Homo sapiens: one gene and its partner. The protein of the gene in region 2 interacts with the protein of the main gene of each other region in a biochemical or structural test. Each region holds a gene or a part of one and is shown on either strand. Other genes may lie near its edges.

Evidence for each region. Proteins that work in one complex are often made in the same cells at the same time.
Region 1: the proteins of BANP (region 2) and PML form a complex in vitro, tested with the Homo sapiens proteins (one study listed by BioGRID).

Annotation. Positions count from the first base shown.
Region 1 is NC_000015.10:73,997,716-74,001,647, forward strand, and holds part of PML (protein PML), read left to right. Parts: intron 1-288; coding exon 289-761; intron 762-3,932.
Region 2 is NC_000016.10:88,003,093-88,007,456, forward strand, and holds part of BANP (protein BANP), read left to right. Parts: intron 1-1,202; coding exon 1,203-1,319; intron 1,320-2,997; coding exon 2,998-3,173; intron 3,174-4,364. UniProt on the Homo sapiens protein: Controls V(D)J recombination during T-cell development by repressing T-cell receptor (TCR) beta enhancer function. Binds to scaffold/matrix attachment region beta (S/MARbeta), an ATC-rich DNA sequence located upstream of the TCR beta enhancer.

The DNA of each region.
Region 1 (3,932 bases), on a different chromosome or scaffold from region 2:
CCAAACTGAGTTCCTTGAAGGCAGAATGTATCCTACACCTCTTATATCTCAGAGCCTATTACTGTGGGTGATGAGAAGTAGATGCTCAATAAATGGTGCAGTGAGAGCTGGAGGGCCTGAATAAATGGGGGTATTGGGGTGCTGATAAGCCAGGGTTTTGCATCATCCAATGACTGGCTGGAATGGAATATGAGGTCCTACTCCAGGGTCCAGCTGTAAGGGTGGTTGGCCGGTAGGTGGGGGCTTTTGGGACTTCTCCAGGCCTCACCTGCCTCTCTGGTCCCCCAGCGAGCCCCCGCTTCGGAGGAGGAGTTCCAGTTTCTGCGCTGCCAGCAATGCCAGGCGGAAGCCAAGTGCCCGAAGCTGCTGCCTTGTCTGCACACGCTGTGCTCAGGATGCCTGGAGGCGTCGGGCATGCAGTGCCCCATCTGCCAGGCGCCCTGGCCCCTAGGTGCAGACACACCCGCCCTGGATAACGTCTTTTTCGAGAGTCTGCAGCGGCGCCTGTCGGTGTACCGGCAGATTGTGGATGCGCAGGCTGTGTGCACCCGCTGCAAAGAGTCGGCCGACTTCTGGTGCTTTGAGTGCGAGCAGCTCCTCTGCGCCAAGTGCTTCGAGGCACACCAGTGGTTCCTCAAGCACGAGGCCCGGCCCCTAGCAGAGCTGCGCAACCAGTCGGTGCGTGAGTTCCTGGACGGCACCCGCAAGACCAACAACATCTTCTGCTCCAACCCCAACCACCGCACCCCTACGCTGACCAGGTGAGTAGGCCGGCACAGGGTGGGGTGGTGCATCCAAGTACCAGGTAGAGGGCGAGAGGAGCAAAGATCCAAAGAGTCACACAGCTGAGGACAAGGAGCTTCTGGGGCCTTGCAACTCTAAATGTGGTCTGCAGATATGCAGTGTCCGTGTTGATGACCACAATTTATGCTGCCAGTCCCCACGCAGGTGGATAGTAAGTTTCCAGTTTCCTCCTGTAATAAATAATGCTGCAGAATCATCTTTGCATCTTTATCCAGTAACTTCTTTAGGATAAATTTTTAGAAGTGCCACTGCTGGGTGTAGGGGGACGGGAATTCTACATTTGATACATGTTACCAAACTGCCCTTTAGAATTTAGTGGAATTTTCCGAGAGCACTGACACGGAATCTCAGTAAGGCTGGATTCTAGGATCAGAGACAAGTAGTTAGTTTCTGTCTGAAAAGTTGAAACCATTAACACCAGGCAGCGCTATCTGAGAATGTCTGTATGGGGAAAAAAAATCACATCCAGTTGTAATTATTTTTATTAAACAGATTTTAACTCAGTTTTTTAATAGGTAATACATTCGTACAGTTCACGAACAAAATTTGTAAAGAGGAGAGAGAGAGTGCAATCTTCTGTCCATGCCCAACTGCCTAATTCCCACCACTTCTCCCTCTTCCCATCCACAGGTAGCCATTGTTACTAGTTTTGAATGTTTCTTCTGAGAGTTTCTTTACGAATATATATGCAGGTAGGAGCAATCTTATCAGGTCCTATTTTCCCTCTTTTAGCCAAAAAGGTAGCATAACTATGTGAACTTTTCACCATTAGCAATAGATTGTTCATAGAAGGCGCTTCTTGGTTCTTAGAGATCCACTTGCAAAATGAAAGCATTTTTCGCTGGTTTTTGACAACTCAGAACTATATATGGCTAAACCACATATTTGCTGAACTACATATCTGCTAAACTGACTGTGATTTGTTTCCTGCTTTAGGATAAACTTCCCACACTATCAGAATAAGCTTTCCCCTCCGACTCCTCAACAGCTGGTATCACCACGTTTCTTAGCTTATTGTAAAGGTTGAGTGGCTTTCCACTTGTTTATTGGCCATTGTGTTTCTGCATTTGCGAGTGGCCTGTTTAGGTCCTTTGCCTGTTGTTGTTGTTGTTTCCGTTGAGGAATTAAGGGACTAATTAAAGAATTCAGGAACAAATTCCTCGAAAGAAAAAAATGTATGCATTTCTTTTGCTCTTACAATTTATGCAGTTTTAAAACTTACATATTTATTGGATTTTGATTGAAATTGCAATAAATTAGGAGAAATTGGCTTTATCTCTGGTTCTATCTTTTGGATTTAAAAAATTTTTTTTAATTTTTTTTTTTTTTTTTTGAGATGGAGTCTCGCTGTGTCACCCAGGCTGGAGTGCAGTGGCGCGATCTCGGCTCACTGCAACCTCCACCTCCCGGGTTCACGCCATTTTCCTGCCTCAGCCTCCCAAGTAGCTGCGATTACAGGTGCACATCATCATGCCTGGCTAATTTTTTGGCATTTTTAGTAGAGACAGGGTTTCACTATAATGGTCAGGCTGGTCTCCTGACCTCAGGTGATCCACCTGCCTCGGCCTCCCAAAGTTCTGGGATTACAGGCATGAGCCACCATGCCCAGCCTTATACTAATTTCTTAATGAATTTGTAAGCTTTCATGTTTTGAACGTGATAATGCAGCCATCCCACGGGATCCATGGGAGTCTGTTTCAAATTCATAGATGCTCAAGTCTCTGATATAAAATGGCATAGTATTTGTATATAACCTCTACACATCCTCCTGTATACTTTATTTTTTATTTTATTTTTATTTTTTGAGACGGGGTCTTGCTCTGTCGCCCAGGCTGGAGTGCAGTGCTGCACTCGTGGCTCACTGCAGCCTCAATCTCTTGGGTTCAAACAATCCTCCCACCTCAGCCACCAGATTATACAGGACTGCAGGTGTGCACCACCACACTCAGCTAATTTTTAAATTTTTTGTAGAGACAGGGTTTCACGACATTGCCCAGACTGGTCTTGAGAACTCTTGGGCTCAGGCAGCAACCCTCCCTAGGCCTCTCAAAGTGCTGGGATTACAGGTGTGAGCCACTGTACCCATCCCCTCCTGTATACTTTAAGTCATCTCTAGATTACTTATAATGCCTAATACAATGTAAATGCTATGTAAAGAGTTGTTTTACTATATTTTTGAATTTGTATATTTTTTTATTGTGGTACTTTTTTAATTGATTTTTTTTCGCCTGAATATTTTTGATCCAAGATTTGTTGAATCCACGGGTGCGTAACCTGCAGATACTGAGGGCCAACTGTACATATAAATTGTTTAGCGTAGTGCCTGGCACATATTAAATACTCAGTGAATGTTAAAATTCTATTATAATTTCTCTGCTCTAGAACAATTTGAAGAATATAAGAAATTTAGGCTTATAAAAGTTTTTTGAAAAACCATCTTGGAACTGGTGCCTTTTTTATAGTAGATTTTTGGGAACTTTTCCCATTTTTGCCATGGCATTAATCTGTTTTGGCTCTTGTGTCAGATTTTTGGAAGATTTTCCAGTTCATCCTGAGTTATCTTTCATTATTTAAAAATCTCCTATATGCCTGTAACTATACCCCCTTTTTTTATTTCTGATGTTGTATATTTGTGGTTTAGCAGTCTTTTCAAAGTACTGTACTTTTAGTCTTTCCTTAGATTGCTTACTGATTTTAATGTTTTCCTTCTTTCTGTTTGATCATTTTATTTTTGTCATTTTCTTCCTTCTAACTTTTGTCATTATTCATTTTCTAGCTTCTTGAACTTATAATTCATTTATTTGCAATCTTTATTGTTTAATAATAATAACTTTTTTTTTTTTGAGAATCTCCCTCTGTCACCCAGGCTGGAGTGCAGTGGTAGATCTTGGCTCACTGCAACCTGTGCCTCCTGGGTTCAAGTGATTCTCCTGCCTCAGCCTCCCCAGTAGCTGAGACTACAGGTGCCCACCACCATGCCTGGCTAATTTTTTTTATTTTTAGTAGAGACGGGGTTTCCCCATGTTGACCAGGCTGGTCTCGAACTCCTGGCCTCAAGTGATCCACCCGCCTCAGTCTCCCAAAGTTCTGGGATTACAGGCGTGAGCTACAATGCCCTGCCTAATAAT
Region 2 (4,364 bases):
CTGTGGTGACCAAGCCAAAAGCCACCTGGGTTACTTTCCATACCTGACCTATAGGTCATTTGTCAGGTTTTGCTGTGTTAACGTTAGGTGTCACCAATAACAAGTAGAGGAATTTAAAAAATAATATTTTTGAATGAAATGGAGTTGATTATGCCTTTATTTTAGGAGAAAACCTGGTGGTCCTGTGATTTACTTGAGCATGGCGTGGTGCTGTGCTGGCACTCAATGTGGGGACAGTTACAGTGATACTAGGCTAGAATTTCCTATGTGCAGATCACAGAAAGGCAGGCTTCCCAGGTTGGTTTTTGGAGAGTGAAATCCAAGAATGGAGTTTTATTGTCAGGTGATAATCACGTTGTGTTTCTAGTGCTAGTTCTTTCTCTCCCCAGCCTTCCACAACAAAGCGGACCTTAGATATCCCTTGTGACCAGAAAGTGCTAAGGCTTAAAAACGCATGATTGAAAACTGTGGGTGAGTCTGTACTTTGAGATGAAGCTGTGTTAGCTGCCGCCTGTCTGAACACACTCGTGCTTCCTCCAGGGTGGCGCCAGGCTTGCTGGTTTCTGGGCCATGGTCTGTTCTTTTGTAGAATCTTTTCCTTCAAAGCAGAACCCTGAGCCCTTTGGTTGTAGCTCACACATGTTCCTGCAGGACCTGGAGGCAGCATGTGTGTCCTTCCATCCCAAGTCCAACGTGATGTTTGCCCCTTTCTTTCCAGGGCGCTACCGTTTTGGAATGATACCAACACTTACGTGGTTACGAACGTTAGATCTGTCCCATAGGAATGAGTTGGGATGGAGTGACTGAAAATGTCAAGCCAGTTCTCATGCAAGTGTGCCACCCTAGAAGCTTTATTAACTGGGTGCGATAACAGCTGGTGCGGTTGCAGTCTATTCTGTCACAAGTTCAGCATCCTCAGCCCAGCTGTCCTGTGCTATCCAGTTGTGCAGACAGATCACCAACAATTAGGAAAAGTTACGTTCTGCTAAAAACCCCATCTCCAGTTTATTCTTCCTTAGCATTTGGGGCTCCTTCCCCCTCAGGACGGGTCCCTGGGAGTGGACTATGTTGAATGACTCTTAGGCCTCCCCCTCAGTGCGGGTCCCTGGGAGTGGACTGTGTTGAATGACTCTTATGTGCTCTTACCATGAATGTTGTTGTTTTAAGGCCTTCTTTTTCTTTGTGATTCTTTTGTTCCCTAGCGTCGTCCCCCAGACTACAGTAATACTCAACAATGATCGGCAGAACGCCATTGTAGCCAAGATGGAAGACCCCTTGAGCAACAGGGCACCGGATTCCCTGGAAAATGTCATTAGCAAGTCAGTAGCACGGCACCAACCCCACCTTTCCCTGCCACTGTGCGGAGTCCCATGAGAATAAGTCAACGTCCCTAAGCCAGGGCACAGTCCAGCACACGCTTCATCTCTGTGGTCACAGGGTTGAGCCTGGCAGGCACCGCCCCAGCTCTCTGAGGTCGGGGAGGGCAGGCTGGGCGATGCTGAATGCTGAGTCCAGCCACACCAGGGGCAGCTGCCGCCGGGGACTTCTGTGTCTCGTGCTGGCCGGGGTTGTGGAGGGGGCTGGCTCTGTCTCCTCACAGCAGTCTGTGAAAGCGTTCATCCTCCCACCTAGCTCAGTGGTCCTCACGTCTGTCTGTGCAGAGCGTGTCAGGCAAACAGACGCCCTCTCCCACGGTTGCTAAGTGGTGCAGGCATGTTGAGTTTATGACTTTTTTCTTATACCTTTTTCTCTTGAGACATTTTGAATGGAACTTTGGTCAGAGGTGGGAGTGGACAGAAGACACCGTCCCCGCTCTGTGTGAGGGGAAGGCTGTGCAGTGGCCTCTGGCTGGCATCCAAGCCCTGCTGTCCCCAGGAGTGCCCCTGGGGCTGCGTGAACCCCTGAGGATGCTGTTGCTTTTTCTTTCCCATCTGTGTCTTCACAAAGTTCTATTTGCTTTTTCTCTCAGTCTCCTTTGTGGATTCCTCCTCCTCCAGCTTCGTCCCCTTTCTGTATTGTCTTAGCTCAGTTCTCCAGGGCCGCAGCTGTGGTCGCAAGGGTCTGATACGTGGGGTGAAGGGAGAGGAGTTGGTGATGGGCGGTGAGGAGGTGCCAGGGTCAGCTGTGCCTCAGGGGCTTTGCACTGAGGTCAGCCAGGCAGATGGCCAGTGTTGAGATCAGGTTCAGCGTGGACAGCGCTCTAGAGAATCCAGGCCAGAAAGTGCAGAGTGCAGCGCCCTCCTCTGGGTGCGGCCAGTGTTTTCAACACCCTTTTTTTTGACTTTGCATATAGAGAAATTGTGCTCCTTTCTCCTGCTGGTGCGTAGCAGTCCACGGTAGAGGATGTTGAAAGGGTCACTAAAAAAGGGAAGTAGTAAGTCTCTAAATCATCCTTTTTTTTGAGCACTTGTGGAGGTGGCCTCGCCCTGCTTTGCTAGCAGTGTTCTGTCCTTCCACATCAGCAGCCCTTGGGATGATGGCAGCTCCGATGGGATCTCAGTGGGTTTTTTAAGCCCCGTCAGGGTTTTTTGCCCGTGGGCGTACGTGGGAGTGCTGCTCGCATTGCGAGGGGGAGCCATCTCCAGCGAGCCCAGCAGCGTGGATCGAATTGACCCAGGCCTCTGGGCACAGTTTTCCTCATTTAGTCTTCCCTTTAACCTCGCCGGAAAAAAGACTCTTACCAGCATTTTATGGGATGACTACTGAACTCAGAAGGCAGCATGCTAGGCCTGAGTCCCAGTGAGTATGATTTTACTCCTTTTGTGATACAAACATTTTCTTTAAATGGTTAAGTTTTATTTTATACAGTTTCTTTCAGCCCCAGGCCATTTTCTCCCATGGAGTTTCTATTAATCTTGGTAGAGAGAGCAGTATGGGAAGGCTGTGTGATCCACTGGTCCACACAGAGTTAGATTTTGCGATAAGGAAAGCGCTGACCTTCGCGTGCTGCTTGCGGCTCTTACCACATCGGGCTGGTGTGTTTTTTTTCCCGTTTAGCGCTGTGCCTGGGCGTCGGCAGAACACCATTGTGGTGAAGGTGCCGGGCCAAGAAGACAGCCACCACGAGGACGGGGAGAGCGGCTCGGAGGCCAGCGACTCTGTGTCCAGCTGTGGGCAGGCGGGCAGTCAGAGCATCGGGAGCAACGTCACGCTCATCACCCTGAACTCGGAAGGTGCGTCCAGGGCGGCTTTCCTCGGCCAGAGCGCCAGTACAATTGTTTGTTTGTTTTGCCTTTTAGAAATTTTGTTGTTTTTTAAAGAAGTGATACAGTGGCCAGGCGCGGTGGCTCACGCCTGTAATCCCAGCACTTTGGGAGGCTGAGGCGGGCGGATCACCTGAAGTCGGGAGTTCGAGACCAGCCTGGCCAACATGGAGAAACCCTGTCTCTACTGAAAATACAAAATTAGCCGGGTGTGGTGGCAGGTGCCTGTAATCCCAGCTACTCGGGAGGCTGAGGCAGGAGAATCGCTTGAGCCTGGGAGGTGGAGGTTGCGGTGAACCGAGATCATGCCATTGCATCCAGCCTGGGCAATAGAGGAAACTCCATCTCAAAAAAAAAAAAAAAGTGATACAGTATAGGACAGGCTCAGTGGCTCACACCTGTAATTCCAGCACTTTGGGAGGCTGAGGCGGGTGGATCATGAGGTCAGGAGTTCAAGACCAGCCTGGCCAAAATGGTGAAACCCCATCTCTACTAAAACTACAAAAATTAGTTGGGCACGGTGACAGGTGCCTGTAATCCCAGCTACTTGGGAGGCTGAGGCGGGAGAATTGCTTGAACCTGGGTGGCAGAGGTTGCAGTGAGCTGAGATCGCACCACTGTACTCTAGCCTGGGCGTCAGAGACTCTGTCTCAAAAAAAAAAAAAAAAAAAAAAAGATAGTGATACAGTATAAACATGAAGATTAAAGGGAAAATAACTGTGATCCCACCATTCTGAGATCTCTAAACCTTTTGGGGTTTTTTGGTGCACATTTTATGATTTTATAACTCACTTCTTTCCCCTACACAGTAGAAATCTTTCCACGTTAGTGCAGATGGACAGAGTCATTTTTAGCCAGTTTTGCTTATTTCATCAGGTCTGGATGCTTTCCAGGGATGGCCCCCTCTAACCTTTCGTTATTGAAACTAGCATTGGCCTGCTGTGTTTTCATGTCTCTTGGATCAGTGTCTGGACGTGGGCTCTCAGAGGCAGGTTGCTGGGCTAGAGGACGCAGCTTCCACGGGTTCCATGGCACAGGATGCATTGCCCATTTCCCCCGAGATCTGGAAGGATGTGAAGCTGTTTGTCCTACTTGGACTCCTAGCGGGGGCCTCTCTCCTGCAGGGCTCTGAGGTGCCCTCCCGCCTGGCCCTCGGCCTGC